Homo sapiens: one gene and its partners. The protein of the gene in region 2 purifies or fractionates together with the protein of the main gene of each other region. This does not show direct contact. Each region holds a gene or a part of one and is shown on either strand. Other genes may lie near its edges.

Region 1 (3,500 bases), on a different chromosome or scaffold from region 2:
GAATGAGACCCCCCCTCCCCCACCCCCCAAAAAAACAAAAACAAAAACAAAAAAAAATCAAACTCAGATTTCCACCTTCCCCTCTCCTAAACTTCCTATTTTCTACCTGGTTCCATAATGATCTACCCATCATTCATGTTTAAAACCTTGGATTAACCTTTGGTTTTTCCTGCCCTTTTCTCCTACTCTGCCAGACTCCATCTGTGCACCAACTCCTGGTCATTCCTTCCCTCAGAAATCCCTTTCATGTGTCCCTTTAAATTTCTACCACCAGTACCCAAAGACAGGTCCCTATTTCATCAAATCTAGGTTGACACTTAGCCTTAGCTAACGTTCTTGCCTCTAGTCAAACCTCACTCCCAACTCCAAACCAACCTAAATACTGCTGACAACTGGTCTCTGATCGTGTCCCTGTCCCCTCCCTATTCAAAATGTCCCCACCCCACCCCAAAGTAATTCAATATCTTCCCAGTCTACTACTTTCCCTGGTATCCATGGCTTTACAAAACCTGATTCCAATTTAATTTTAATGCTCTTATCGCCTTTCCCCTGCAATCTGGTCCTTCACCTCTCACTCCTCTACACCTTTGTTCTTGCCATCCTCCCCTCCAGGCACTCCATCTGCTCTTTCTGCTATCCATATTCAATCTCTGCTACTAAAACTTCCCATAGGTAAAAAGAGTCTCTCCTTGTCTCAAATCCCACCCCTTTTTGTCCACACCACTCATGTAGCATCTAGCCTAGATACATAACCGTGCATTACAGGGCACTGCTTTTGTTTGTGTGTTTGTTAAAAAATGCCAGTCTCATCTCCCTAACTGGACACAAAGTTCTTAGAGGATGAAAATGCTTGTTCTTTGTAACTCCTAGAAGATTTTGCTTAGTTCTACCTATAAATGGTGATTAATAACTACTGATGAGGTGATCTAAAGTTCAGTTGAAATAATGCCCATCTACTCCCATGCAGTTCTTTCTAAGGGCTCTCTCTCTTCACTGGTGTCTGTACTCACCAGAAGCACTGTTATACACTGTGTGCCGTGGTCTTGTTTTTTCCCCCTTTCAAATATGAGTCTGGTCTCTCCAACTAACTTCTAAGTTCCTTAAAGACTCTTTCTTATACCTTTTAAGCATTCTTTACAATGTTAAGCAGACCACTGGACACAGAGTGGTATTTAACATAAACCAGTAATAAAGACACCTAAATATTACCCAAAATGTCTCAATTAAACAGTGCTTGGGCCCGGCGTGGTGGCTCACGCCTATAATCCTAGCACTTTGGGAGGCCAAGGCGGGCAGATTACGAGGTCAAGAGATCGAGACCATCCTGGCCAACATGGTAAAATCTCGTCTCTACTAAAATACAAAAAAAAAATAGTCAGGCCTGGTGGCATGCGCCTGTAATCGCAGCTACTCGGGGGCTGAGGCAGGGGAATCGCTTGAACTTGGGAGGCAGAGGTTGCAGTGAGCCAAGATCATGCCACTGCACTCCAGCCTGGGTGACAGAGCGAGACTCAGCCTCAAAAAAAAAAAAGCTTAACACCACTTAAGGCACAGACTTTATAAATAACACGTCTACCCTGTTTTACAAATTTCAAAGCCAGTTCACGTCTATTATTTATTTCACTCTCATAACTCTGTGATGTCAGTTTACTGAAGGAAAAACTGGCTAAGCAAGATTGTAGGATCAGGCCGGGCGTGGTGGCTCATGCCTGTAATCCCAGCACTTTGGGAGGCTGAGACGGGTGGATTACTTGAGCCCAGGAGTTCAAGATCCGCCTAGCCAACATAGTGAAACTCCGTCACTACTAAAAATACAAAAATTAGCCATGCATTGTGCACACCTGTAATCCCAGCTACTTGGGAGCACAAGAATCGCTTGAACCCTGGAGGCAGAGGTTGCAGTGAGCTGAGATCACACACCACTGCACTCCAGCCTAGGTGACAGAGTGAGACTCTGTCTCCAAAAAAAAAAAAAAAGATTGTAGAACCAGTAAATTGGCAGTGCAAGGATTCAAACCCAGACCTCCTGGGCCCAGGGTCAAAATTTTAGGTACTATTCCACAAATACAGATTCATCTTCTCAATTAGCCTCCAAGTTCCTGGAGGACCAGGGCCATGAATAATGTTTCTTTTAAAAGATTCTCTCCTCATCTCCTCCCAAATGTCTTCATGTATCAATAAGATGAATTAAACCTATATGAATTCTGCAGATACAACAAACTCATCATAAATAACACACAGCCTGACACTACATTGTGCCCCCATAACAGACGAAATCACCATCCAGGCCTCCATCTTAAGTGGAGAAAGACTTGGTAATATAAGCCTATGGCCTCTCCAAGCGACATTCCCAAACAACCATTTTGAGCTCAGCCACACAATCACCACACCCATATAAGGTGAAAGCATACTGTATTTCTCAAAATCCTCGAGTCCTGCCAGACAGTCTAGTCTTTGTTCTCTGAAGGGTTGAGTTAACATCTAATCTAAAGAGAATGGCCAGAAGTGTCTGCTACTCTCAGAGCTTTCAAGGAAACGTCCAGTTAGAGAGCATCATCTCCTGGAAGTACCACGGGTCTCCAAGTACACATAGCTCAGAGCCAGGGCCCTCCACAATTTTCTCCCTAAACTGCATTTTTGGATCATTTTTAAAGATTTTGGAAGCCTTACAGATGAAGAAGCAGGGCCCTAAATAAAAATAAGTTAGTTTTAATATTCCAAGTGAACAGTTTGCTAAAACACCATTTTCATCATCCTAAAGACTAAGAGACTAAGACATGAAAACAACAGAAACTTCTCTATTAGCTCTAGTATGACAGTATCACAGAAGTGTTGGCAAGTTTCTCCTTACCAATGTTATTATCCAGAGTTAGAAACTACTTTAGAAATAAAATAACTTTAGGAAAATTACTTTACTATGTCAAGCATTAAAGTAATTTCAAAAAAGTTCTAGAGGAACATGAACCAAGTTGTATTCTCTAGTCTATAGATTAAGTCATACTAACAACTCACTACTTGAATTATATGAGCATTATAGTTAGGAGGCCAGGCAAAAGCTGAGAAGGCGAGGCTAGTCAGGAAAACATCTCAGAGAATGTTACTGATATAACATGTAGCTGTTGCACTGTAATAGACATATATTACTCTGTCTGGGTTTAAGTGTTCCTTTCTAGAACTGTCTCTTTACCTGATGAACAGTGTATTATAAGGCCATATACCTCCTGAGGGGGTGAGCACAGCTCAAGGTGGCCAGAAGACCTCACTCCCTGGTCCCAGTTACTGATTCAGGGAAAGGATCCATAACGGAATAATAAAGGTACTCCCTGGAGTATCTCCAACAAAATGGCCATGTTCCTGTCTTTTGAGCTCCATTGGTCATCTCTACCCCATGTGAAGAAAACTACCCTGAAAATAAAGCCAACAGTTGACAGAAGAGAACAAGATCAGTCCTGATGACATGCCTGGTGCCCCTGGAGCCAGCCTAGCCCTAACCTCAGCCT
Region 2 (3,500 bases):
TTTTTTTAGGACTTTGCCAGCCACCATGAGCACATGGCCAGGCTTGCCTGCTAGAGGATGAGAGAATACACAGAACAGAGACAGGGCGCCCCAGCTGAGGCCATCCTACAGCAACCAGCCCCCAGCTGACCTGCCCACCATGGGCAGGCACATCTGCAAGACCCAACCGCAAGACCTGAAGAAATGGAGCCCACTCCAAAATGCTGACCCACAGAATCATGAGCTAAACAAATGGCTGTCATCCTAAAGAAGTCACTAAGTTTTGGGTGGTTTGCTATGCATAAAATCTAACCAATGGAGCAGGCAACAAGAGCCACCCCACATGAGGTACATGGCCAGGACAAGTGGCCCTGATAGGGATCCGTCGGAGTTTCCTTCCCCACCACACTGGCCAGAGGACAGCACAGCCCTGGCTTTACTCTCTGGTCCAGCTGTCCACCATAACTCTTCCCAAATACGGAGCAGCCTACTGAGCTAAGGGCAGAACTTCTAAAGGAGACTACGCTCACGGCTCAGAGTTACAAATACACACAGAACTCAACATGCAACAAAAGAATCAAGTTCATAGGCTAAGGCTGCCTCATCTTTAACTTGGGAGCCCCTGTTGGGACCTCACTGATTCATTCTCTTGGGTCTAGACTTCAAGACATGCTTGATTTACTCAAGGTGGGGACAGGGGCCAGGCACGGTGGTTCACGCTTATAATCCCAACACTTTGAGAGGCCAGGACAGGAGGATCGCTTCAGCCCAGGAGTTTGAGACCAGCCTGGGCAATAAAGTGAGACCCTGTCTCTACAAAAAAATTTTTAAAACTAGCTGAGTATGGTGGTAGATGCTTGTGGTCCCAGCTACTCGGGAGGCTGAGGTGGGAGTATTGTTTCAGCCCAGAAGTCAAGGCTGCAGTGAGTCATGATCGCACCACTGCATTCCAAACTGGGTGAGAGAGCAAGACTCTGTTGCCAAAAACAAAATAAAAACAAATTAATTAATTAAAAAGGTGGAGGCAAGGGGACAGCCTCATGGGTAAGCAGGAGACAGACAGGGAGGTTCCCTGTAGAGGAATCGTGCTAAAAAAGAGCTATACCTAATGTAGCAGATTGCCATATGCAGAAGTCTCCAAGTGTGGCCCTCGGGCCAGCAGCATTAGCATCACCAGGAATTTGTCAGAAATGCACATTGTGGGGTCCCAGTGCCTCAGAGACTCTGGGAATGGGGTCCAGCCTCCAGGGGACTTTCAGGCTCATTCAGATTAGAGCTGTCCTGCTCTGCAGAGGCAGTAGGTACAGAGGTTTGGAGTCAGGCAATTCGGGCTTGCCCTTGGTTCCACCTTTTCCCAGCTGTGTAATCCAGGGAAGTCAAGACTCAGCTTCCCCATTTGTAGAATGGGTTAATTACAGTCCCTACAGAGGGCTGTGGTAAGGTTCAAATCAGGTAAGGCAGGATGCCTGGCACACAGAAAGTGTCCAATAAATATGAAGCAGGGCTATCATTTAGGGGCCACTTCCTTGGTTCTTCCCAACTCTCTTAAGTAAACTACCTTTGAAGCTTTAACCTGAATAAAATGAAAATGTACATCCATATGATAAAATACTATACAGCCATGTAAAATAATCTGGTAGATGTACATTCAATCATTGACTTAGAAAACGAGTTCTATTCTATGAGGTGATAAGGGAGAATACAAAAATCACATGTATGACATGAGCTGGTTTTTGTTGGAGAAAGTTTTCTAAATCATAAAAGAATGGCTCAGCTAGGTGCAGTGGCTCACGCCTGTAATCCTAGCACTTTGGGAGGCCAAGGCGGGCAGATCACTTGAGGCCACGAGTTCGAGACTAGCGTGGCCAACACGGTGAAGCCCCATCTCTACTAAAAATACAAAAATTAGCTGGGCACAGTGGTGCACGCCTGTAGTCTCAGCTAACTCAGGAGGCTAAAGTGGAAGGATCTCTTGAGCCCAGGAGGCAGAAGTTGCAGTGAGCCGAGATCACACCACTGCACTGGTGTGACAGAGTGAGACCCTGTCTCAAAAAAAAAAAAAAGAAAAGGCTAGAAAGAGATACCTAAAAAGTTAACAGTGGTTCCCCTGGGTGGGGGGATTATATATGACTTTGCTTACATATTCAGGGACAAAAGGGAAAGACAAAAATGAAATGTTGGCCTGGTAGTGTAGTGAAACTATGAGTAGGAAGTTTAAGTTTTTTAAATTCCGCAAATCTCATTAAAGTAGTGCTTGTAGGCCGGGCACGGTGGCTCACGCCTGTAATCCCAGCACTTTGGGAGGCCAAGGCGGGCGGATCAGGCGGTCAGGAGATCGAGACCATCCTGGCTAACACGGTGAAACCCCATCTCCACTAAAAATACAAAAAATTAGCCAGGCATGGTGTCGGATGCCTGTAGTCCCAGCTACTCGGGAGGCTGAGGCAGGAGAATGGCGTGAACCCAGGAGGCAGAGCTTGCAGTGAGCCGAGATCGCGCCACTGCACTCCAGCCCAGGTGACAGAGCGAGACTCTGTCTCAATAAATAAATAAATAAATAAAGTAGGGCTTGTATAACAAAATAAATTCTGAAGGAAAAGGGTGTGGTGGGCTAAATAATGGCCTCCCAAAATACCCTAAATCCTAATTATGTAGCAAAATGGACTTTGCAGATGAGGTTAAACTAAGGATGTCGAGATGGGGAGGGTATCCTGAATTTCCCAGGTGGGCCCTAAATGCAAATGCGCAAGTACCTGTTTAGAGGGAGGCAGAGGGAGATTTGCATATAAAAGAGGAGAAGACCACGTGACCAAGGAGGCAGAGCCTGCAGTGAGGCAGCTACAGCCAAGGAATGCCAGCAGCCACCAGAACCGGAAGAGGCAAGGCAAGAACAGATTCTCCCCAAGAGCCACAGGAGGTACAGTCCTATCCGCACCTCGATTTCTGCACAGTGAAACTAATTTTGGATTTCTGGTGCCTAAAGCAGTGAGAGAATACATTTCTGTTGTTTCAAGCCACCAAGTTTGTGTTAATTTGTTACAGCTGACCTAGGAGACTAATCAAAAGAGGGAAAATGCCTCTGCAGGCACAATCATCTACTCAAAGGCAGAGGGAAAGGTGAGAAACACCCAGCACTGCACTTGCAGGCTCATGTGTCGTCTCTGAACCAGGCTGTGCGCTCTTCATGGCAGGTGCTGGCTATTACTGAGACCAGCCATCTGGTTCGTTCCTTCCACAAACAAGTGGAACAAGTTTGTTGTTGTTGTTTTTGAGGCAGAGTCTCACTCTGTCACCCAGGCTGGAGTGCAGTGGTGTGATCTCAGCTTACTGCAACCTCCTCCTCCCAGGTTCAAGCAATTCTCATGCCTCAGCCTCCTGAGTAGCTGGGATTACAGGTGCACGCCACCACACCCGGCTAATTTTTTGTTTTTTGTGTTTTTTTTTTTTTTTTTGAGACGGAGTCTCACTTTGTCGTTCAGGCTGGAGTGCAGTGGTATGATCTCAGCTCACTGCAACCTCTG
Region 3 (3,500 bases), on a different chromosome or scaffold from region 2:
TCTAGGAACCAAATGGTATGATTGTTACAACAGAGCTTCACAACCCTTAGTCTCTTGGGAAACAGAAACTCTCCAAAATCATAGGACTAATTACAAGCTGGTAAGTGATTCTTTTCATGTTCTTAAGAAGCAAAATCTCTTAAACTTTCTCTCTTTAGAATAAAAGTCAGCTAAATTGAGAAGTAAGATAAACTGGCAGGAGTGTCAATGATGAAGAGCCCTTAGAAAGGTGCAGAAATATTAAAAGTATACTTTTTTACAGTTGTTCAAGATTAAATCAGGATGGTGCCAAAAAAGTTAAGAATTATAATAACCGATTTAGATAAAAGTCAGAGGAAATATTTACACCATTTACAAATTTTTGGTAAAGAGCTAGAAAATAATGCAAATCTCAAAGGAAAATTAATGTAATTGTTACTCTAATCACTTTCTAATTACCTCAGTATACACATCTTTTATATATATATACACACACACACATATATATATAATTGTATTTACTTTCATATATTAAATGTTTTCTATGTTCCTATAAATGGCTTCGGTATTCTCTCTTATTCATAAATAATTAAGTTTCTTGAAGGATAAGAATTTTATCGTTCTTCTGTTACTCTTCAGGAAGTTTACTACTATATCTTACAAAACAAAATACCATGTAGGACCAACATAGGCTAAATACTCAAATGAGTGTACAGAATATTAAATAATATTTAATTTTTAAAAAGCAGGGAACTAAATGTGATCCCAGAGTGGTTTCAAATCTGGATTTAACCATGAAAGTATGAATTCAAGAGTATATGCATGAAGTGGGATCAGTTCCAGGCTGTTTGTTGTCACTGATTATCTCTCTTCTAAAAGATTCTGCTAGTCTAGTTCAGCATCTGGGTTTCCTTGGGTCAATGAGGCTATTGGGAACCAACTTTGTGACAGATCTAAATGCTAAAAGAATCCCTAAAACATATAAATCATCTAAGTATTATGAAGATGATAAAGATCTATAGAAAGATTACAGTTTCTGTATTCTCTAGGACCCACCCTCCCTCAAATCCTCCTTTCTCATTAATGTTATAGTACTGTGTTTCAAAAAACAAAACTCCTTAGCTCTAGAATATACAAAACCCTTTGCTTAGCACCTAAGTTTCCTCAGCTATAAAGCAGGCTTGGTATTAAGTGTTATAATTAGCCTGCATAGAAGCTGCTAAATAGTTATGACTTTCTCAAAGTGTCTAATATCCATTAAAAACATTACTAGAAACTGGGCACTTAAATTTAATTTTCAATTATGACCTCCGTATCATGTTCTACTACTTAAATGTAGAAAAATAAGACATTAGCTCATTTATATAAATGGAAGGCCATAAATGTACAAGCTTAATTATAGAATCTAGCTCTCAACCCTGGGTTTTGGAAATTATCAGTTTGATTTTGGAAATTATCAGTTTGATTTTCAAATTGTGCTAAGCTTGCTAACCTCATCTGCATAAATTAAGTGGTAATGACATTCTAAGGAACTCCCTCTGGGTATGGAAAGAAATAGAACTAAGTCTTACTTGCCTAAAATATATACTAAGAATGCTCAAGATTACTGTGTACAGGTAAAGAGAAGATGTTTGATTAATCTCTAAGTATAAACATGGGAAATTCTTGCTTCATATCTACAAAAAAAGTGCCATGGCAAAGTAAACATTTCCCAAATATGACTAAAGAAAGAAACATACCCTTTCATAGTTAAGAAAAGGCAGTTCCCCTGAGCTGCAAGCTATCCTCTTCAGGATTTTTGCCTGTCTTCTTTCAGTCTTTATCCCTAGAGTCATTCTTACTGTAATTCTTTTAAAAATTAAAGTGGCCTCATAGACTATCTTGATTGTTTAATACAGCTATCATTTAATTAGTGCTATTAACATGAGCCAGGTCACATCATGATTGACTGATAGATTTTTTTAAAATTCTTACAATAATTTTAGATAATCATAACCCTATTTTATAGATAAGAAACTGAATCTTTAAGAGTCATTAAGTAATTTGAATGAAAAAACACTGCTGGTAAGTGGTGAAACCAGTATTCAAACCCATCATCATGCTCTTGACTATGAGTGGTAAATTAATCTTTCATTATATTTTTCAGTTGACAGATACTTTAGGGTATCTTATAAACAGCAATATATTGAGCATATAAAATGTGAAATATTTCAAATAGAATCTCACTCCTTTGTAAACTAGGATTTTAAGATTAAAACTAGGTTCTCTGAAAGAGGACAGAACTTACAATAAGATATGATAGCACTAATAATAGAAATAGTTTTCCATGAGTATGAAATGCAGTATACTTTAAAAATTTATTTTAACTCCCACAAAAGAAAATATATCCTTGTGATCACATAAAATATAGAAAAACTATAAAAACATGTTGGCAATTCAATTTTTTATTGCTGCTATGGTATTTATTTGGTATAATTTTTCATTTTCTAAATTCAGTCACTAAGTTTAGTAGAAATCAAAGAAAAACAGTGTTCCCAAAAACAGAACTACTAACACACTACCTTAATCCAGGGTCAATAGAAAAGCAGAAAAAATTAACATTAAAACCAAAACAACACTGATAAAGGCCTGGATATCTACAAGATAATCTGAGAGCTAAGTATAACCTTGACTTCATAAATAACCTGTGGGTCATTCTTAACATTCTTTTCTCTTGATCTGTAAATTCAGAAGCAAGCCTCAGTGCTAGAGATATGGAGAATGAAGACTTTTTATTTCCCTATTAATGCACAGTGCTCAAAGAATATAATACGTAAAATCATTTACAGTAAACTGTAAAGTTTCTTTAAGTTTATATGAATGAGACACTCTTAGAGGAAGCAACTGTCAAAAATGGAGAGATTCCCTTCAATGACTTCAAACAAATCCTTGTGAAATACATTTTTTACAGTTCATGTTAATTAAAAATTTACCAACCTATCACCAGGTCCTGCTCGATACCTTGCACCTGGGATCAGGACTGGGTCATCATCACTGTCATCTGTGTCCTGAAGAGCAGAGTCCCTGGTGGATGTTTCTTCATGAGCTGAAGGCCCAGTGGCTTCTGTTTGGAACTGAGGCTCAGGATTGGTGTTATTTTCATTGGTAGCACTCTCAGTGCTAGTCTGATCTGAAGTTTCTGGTTCCTTGGCTTTTTCAGATGAAGCAGATTCTTCTGGAACCCCACAAGAGCGATCAAGATTGAGGTCATTTCTTTCTCCTGAGTTGGAATCCAATGGCTTGGCTGTGAACTTATCTGATTGTGCTGTCAGAAAATAAAGTTGTATGTAACAGGTGGTAATGTGGGCAATACTAATTATTTAACCTAACTTAGGAGCTCACAAACACATTCTAATATGATGTCTAATTCCTCTATAAGGGGAGGAAACTTCCACAATACACTTGAACATGGCCTCTAACTATAGAGAGATTAACATAGATTAAGGCTTTTTATTTTCCCATACAAAGCAATTATCTAAAGG
Region 4 (3,500 bases), on a different chromosome or scaffold from region 2:
AATGGCTATGTTATCACAGAGACAAATTTGTCACAAGCCTTTTGGCTGGCTTCCTCTAGTGGAAGGTCAGGTAATTCCTTCTCTTTTACTTGTGTAGGTAACCCTCTTGTAGATAAAGACTTTTTCATATTTACCCTTGTGTTTATAATAATAATATGGTGTAATAATAATAATTATACTTACTTTACTTTTTTCTGAGTCAGGAGTTTACTCTATTGCCCAGGCGGAGTGCAGTGACACAGTCATGGCTCACTGCAGCATGGACCTCCTGAGCTCAAGCAATTCTTCTACCTCAGTCTCCTGAGTAGCTGGGACTGTAGGCATGCACCACCACACCTGGCTAATTTTTTGTATTTTTTGTGGGGACAGGGTTTCGCCATGTTGCCCAGGTTGGTCTCAAACTTCTGGGCTCAAGTGATTTTCCTGCCTCGGCCTCCCAAAGTGTTGAGATTACAGGCATGAGCCACCACACGCAGCCAATAATTTTTTTTTTTTTTTTTTTTTTTTGAGATGGAGTCTCGCTTTGTCGCCCAGGCTGTAGTGCAGTGGCGCAATCTCGGCTCACTGCAAGCTCCGCCTCCTGGGTTCAAGCCATTCTCCTGCCTCAGCCTCCTGAGTAGCTGGGACTACAGGTGCCCGCCACTACGCCCGGGCGTAATTTTTTTTTGTATTTTTTTAGTAGAGATGGCATTCCACCGCATTAGCCAGGATGGTCTTGATCTCCTGACCTTGTGATCCGCCCGCCTCAGCCTCCCAAAGTGCTGGGATTACAGGCATGAGCCACCACGCCTGGCCATATTTTTAAAGTAGAGATGAGATCTTGCAATGTTGGCCAGGCTGGTCTTGAACTCCTGGCCTCAAGTGATCCTCCCGCCTTGTCCTCCCAAAGTTCTGGGATGACAGTCATGAGCCATCACGCCCAGCTGATAATTATTATTTATACTATAATATTATGTAATATATCATTTCATAATAAGAAGTCTTATTTATGGACTTCTTCCTGCCAGGTACTTTATGTGTATTATCTCATTTACCCCTTAAAGCTTGAGGGAACACACACCCAAACTTCTGTGCCTTCCACCTGACAACCCTTCAGACATTTGTGTTTAGAGTTACAGTAATGACATCAGACACATGTACACACCAAGGTATTCACTCCTGTACACATCAGATTTGAGGGTTCAGCCTCTGCTTTATATGTGTACACACATGTGCCACTGTTCAGCCAGCTTCTGCTGGGGTTAAATGGCTACAGGGAGTCAGACTTCTCCAGACCATTTCCCAATGACTGTGTTCCCATTGGCCCTGCTGCTGCCTATCTCTGCCTGGCAAAATCAGCCTGATTGCTTGGCTTCTTGGGCCCCTGATTTGTGGTGTATCATGGTGTAACTCTGGGTTGTGAGTTAGCTTCCCATCACTCACTCACTAGAGCTGGAACTGCTGAGGGCAGGTTCACCTGGAGGGCTGAAATGCTTCTCTCAGGTACATGGCACAGCCTGCAGAGGGGCTCCTGTGTCTGTAGAAGGTGTGCATGTGGCATGCATCCTGTCTGGAAATCTGCCAGATTACCTGGCTAGCTGCAGTTTCGGGAAGCTATCAGTGAGACTATTGGCCTCTTAGGCTTGCTGCATTTCCCAAAGAGGCAGCCACCTGTGAGGAGTGTGCCTGTGTGTGTACTTCTGTTATCATACTCGCTTACTTGTGGGCAGCATGTCTCAGATAAACTGCAGCCACTCCTCTGAACTGTGGGCACAGATGTGGTGACCAGCCCCTCCGAAGCCTGACTTCATGACCGTGGGGCACCATGGGGGAAGTTTTCATTTTGTTTCAGCCCCTTTATTCTCATTCTGTGGAGGTTACACCTCCAGGACGTGTTTAGGGAGACCTCTGGGGGAGGTAATCTGTCCTGAGTCCATTGGGTAGTCAGTGAGAAGTGCAGTTCTTGAGTGTCACCTGAAGCTCTTCCTTTCTTCTAGCATGGTTTCATCTTACCTCGTGCATCATGGGTATTGTGCCACAGCCACGGCTTTTGCTCGAATGACTGAAACCCCGATTCAGGAAGAACAGGCGTCCATAAAGAACAGACAAAGTAAGGTTTATTCTACTTTCCCCTTTCCCTTCCTCACCTGTCCCTAACTCTGCTCTCTGGCTCATGTCAACCCTGGTTAACCTGTCAGGAGTCCATTCAGCTCTGGTCCTCATGACCAGCTTGCAGCTCGAGGCCATGTTCCTGTCCCACCTTCAAGATGGCACTGCCCAGATGGACAGTTGGCAGGATGGAGACGTCTCAGGGCAGCCTCCCTAATGCACATTCTGAAGGCTGGGCGCAGGCCAGGCCCTGGCATGGCTGGTTCCATTCCTCCATTTCCTCCCTGCTTGTTTCCTTCCCCCTGAATCCTGGATTCCTCTCAACCTCCTGTTCATGGTCTTCCAGGAAGGCTGTTTGCCTGCCTTAGTAGTTCTGCTTATTCCTAGCCAGAGAGGGGACTGAAGTGGTCAGATAGGGCAAAGCCAGTGCTCAATGGCTGCTGTGGGGGCACTACCCTCTGCTCCCCACCACTGGTCCTGCCCTTTGCAGACAACCTAAAGTCCTCCCTTGGCCAGAGCTCTCCCAGTGTTGATGCTGGCCTGGATGCTGTGTGTCTGGAGGCTCTTTCACGGAAGGAGGGGTGTTGGAAAAGAGGAAAAGGAGCCCAGTGAGGAGCTAGAAGGAGAAAAGGAGAATGAGGGCAAGTGGGTGTGGATATGCGTGTCTGTGAGTGCCTGCCTACCCCTCTCCAAGCCTGCTGTCTCTTCTGTATGTGCACGTGTCTGTCTCCCAGAGAAGCTGTGCTCAGCCAGACAGACGGAAAGGGATCCCAGACTTGGGATCTATGAATGAGAGCCTCAGACTCTGAAGTTGCTCCCAGCGAGATGCACCAGGCCCCACGGCAAGAGCGAAAAGGCAGCAGCAAGATGCTGATGGCGTGAGAGGTGTCAACATCAGAGGTGCCAGCATGAGGAGGATGGCCTCCTCTCCCAGCAGGGGGCATGCTGCAGCCCCTGAAGACCACCAGCCAGAGCCCTGGTCAGAAACCAGTGTGATTCCATTGCCATTCCCCTGTGAGGCCTGGAAGGAGAGGAGTCTGTCTGAAGAGGAGCCACTCAGGCCGCCAAGCTGCCTGGGTGCCCATCCCCAGATCATGTTGCCCCAGCTGGGGCCCTACCCTGCCCCCAGGTCCCTGGCACCATGTGCCCCGCAGGAGCAGACCTCCACATTTACCCTCCTGCCTTTGGGCTGAGAGTCTCCCCTCCATCTTCCCCATATTCTTGAGGACTCTCTGACACTTGGCAGAAACCAGGATCTGTTGGGCTGGGCAGTCAGGTTCTTTCTCCAGCCTCCTCTCCTGTGAGCATTTCAAGCTGGCGAGGCACTCTGAGCCGGACCCTACCCTGAGGCTGGCAGCATCCCAGGTGTGTGGCTGTGGGAGAGGCCTGTAGCCCTCGCTCACTGCTGTGTT

Evidence for each region.
Region 1: the proteins of HAPLN3 (region 2) and RMND5A purify together in Homo sapiens (co-immunoprecipitation; one large-scale study listed by IntAct). This does not show direct contact.
Region 3: the proteins of HAPLN3 (region 2) and DCAF6 purify together in Homo sapiens (co-immunoprecipitation; one large-scale study listed by IntAct). This does not show direct contact.
Region 4: the proteins of HAPLN3 (region 2) and RANBP10 purify together in Homo sapiens (co-immunoprecipitation; one large-scale study listed by IntAct). This does not show direct contact.

The regions. Positions count from the first base shown.
Region 1 is NC_000002.12:86,726,791-86,730,290, reverse strand, and holds part of RMND5A (E3 ubiquitin-protein transferase RMND5A), read right to left. Parts: intron 1-3,500.
Region 2 is NC_000015.10:88,882,045-88,885,544, forward strand, and holds part of HAPLN3 (hyaluronan and proteoglycan link protein 3 isoform 2 precursor), read right to left. Parts: intron 1-3,500. UniProt on the Homo sapiens protein: May function in hyaluronic acid binding.
Region 3 is NC_000001.11:168,044,683-168,048,182, reverse strand, and holds part of DCAF6 (DDB1- and CUL4-associated factor 6), read right to left. Parts: intron 3,284-3,500; coding exon 2,956-3,283; intron 1-2,955. UniProt on the Homo sapiens protein: Ligand-dependent coactivator of nuclear receptors. Enhance transcriptional activity of the nuclear receptors NR3C1 and AR. May function as a substrate receptor for CUL4-DDB1 E3 ubiquitin-protein ligase complex.
Region 4 is NC_000016.10:67,730,061-67,733,560, reverse strand, and holds part of RANBP10 (ran-binding protein 10), read left to right. Parts: intron 1-1,976; coding exon 1,977-2,089; intron 2,090-3,500. UniProt on the Homo sapiens protein: May act as an adapter protein to couple membrane receptors to intracellular signaling pathways.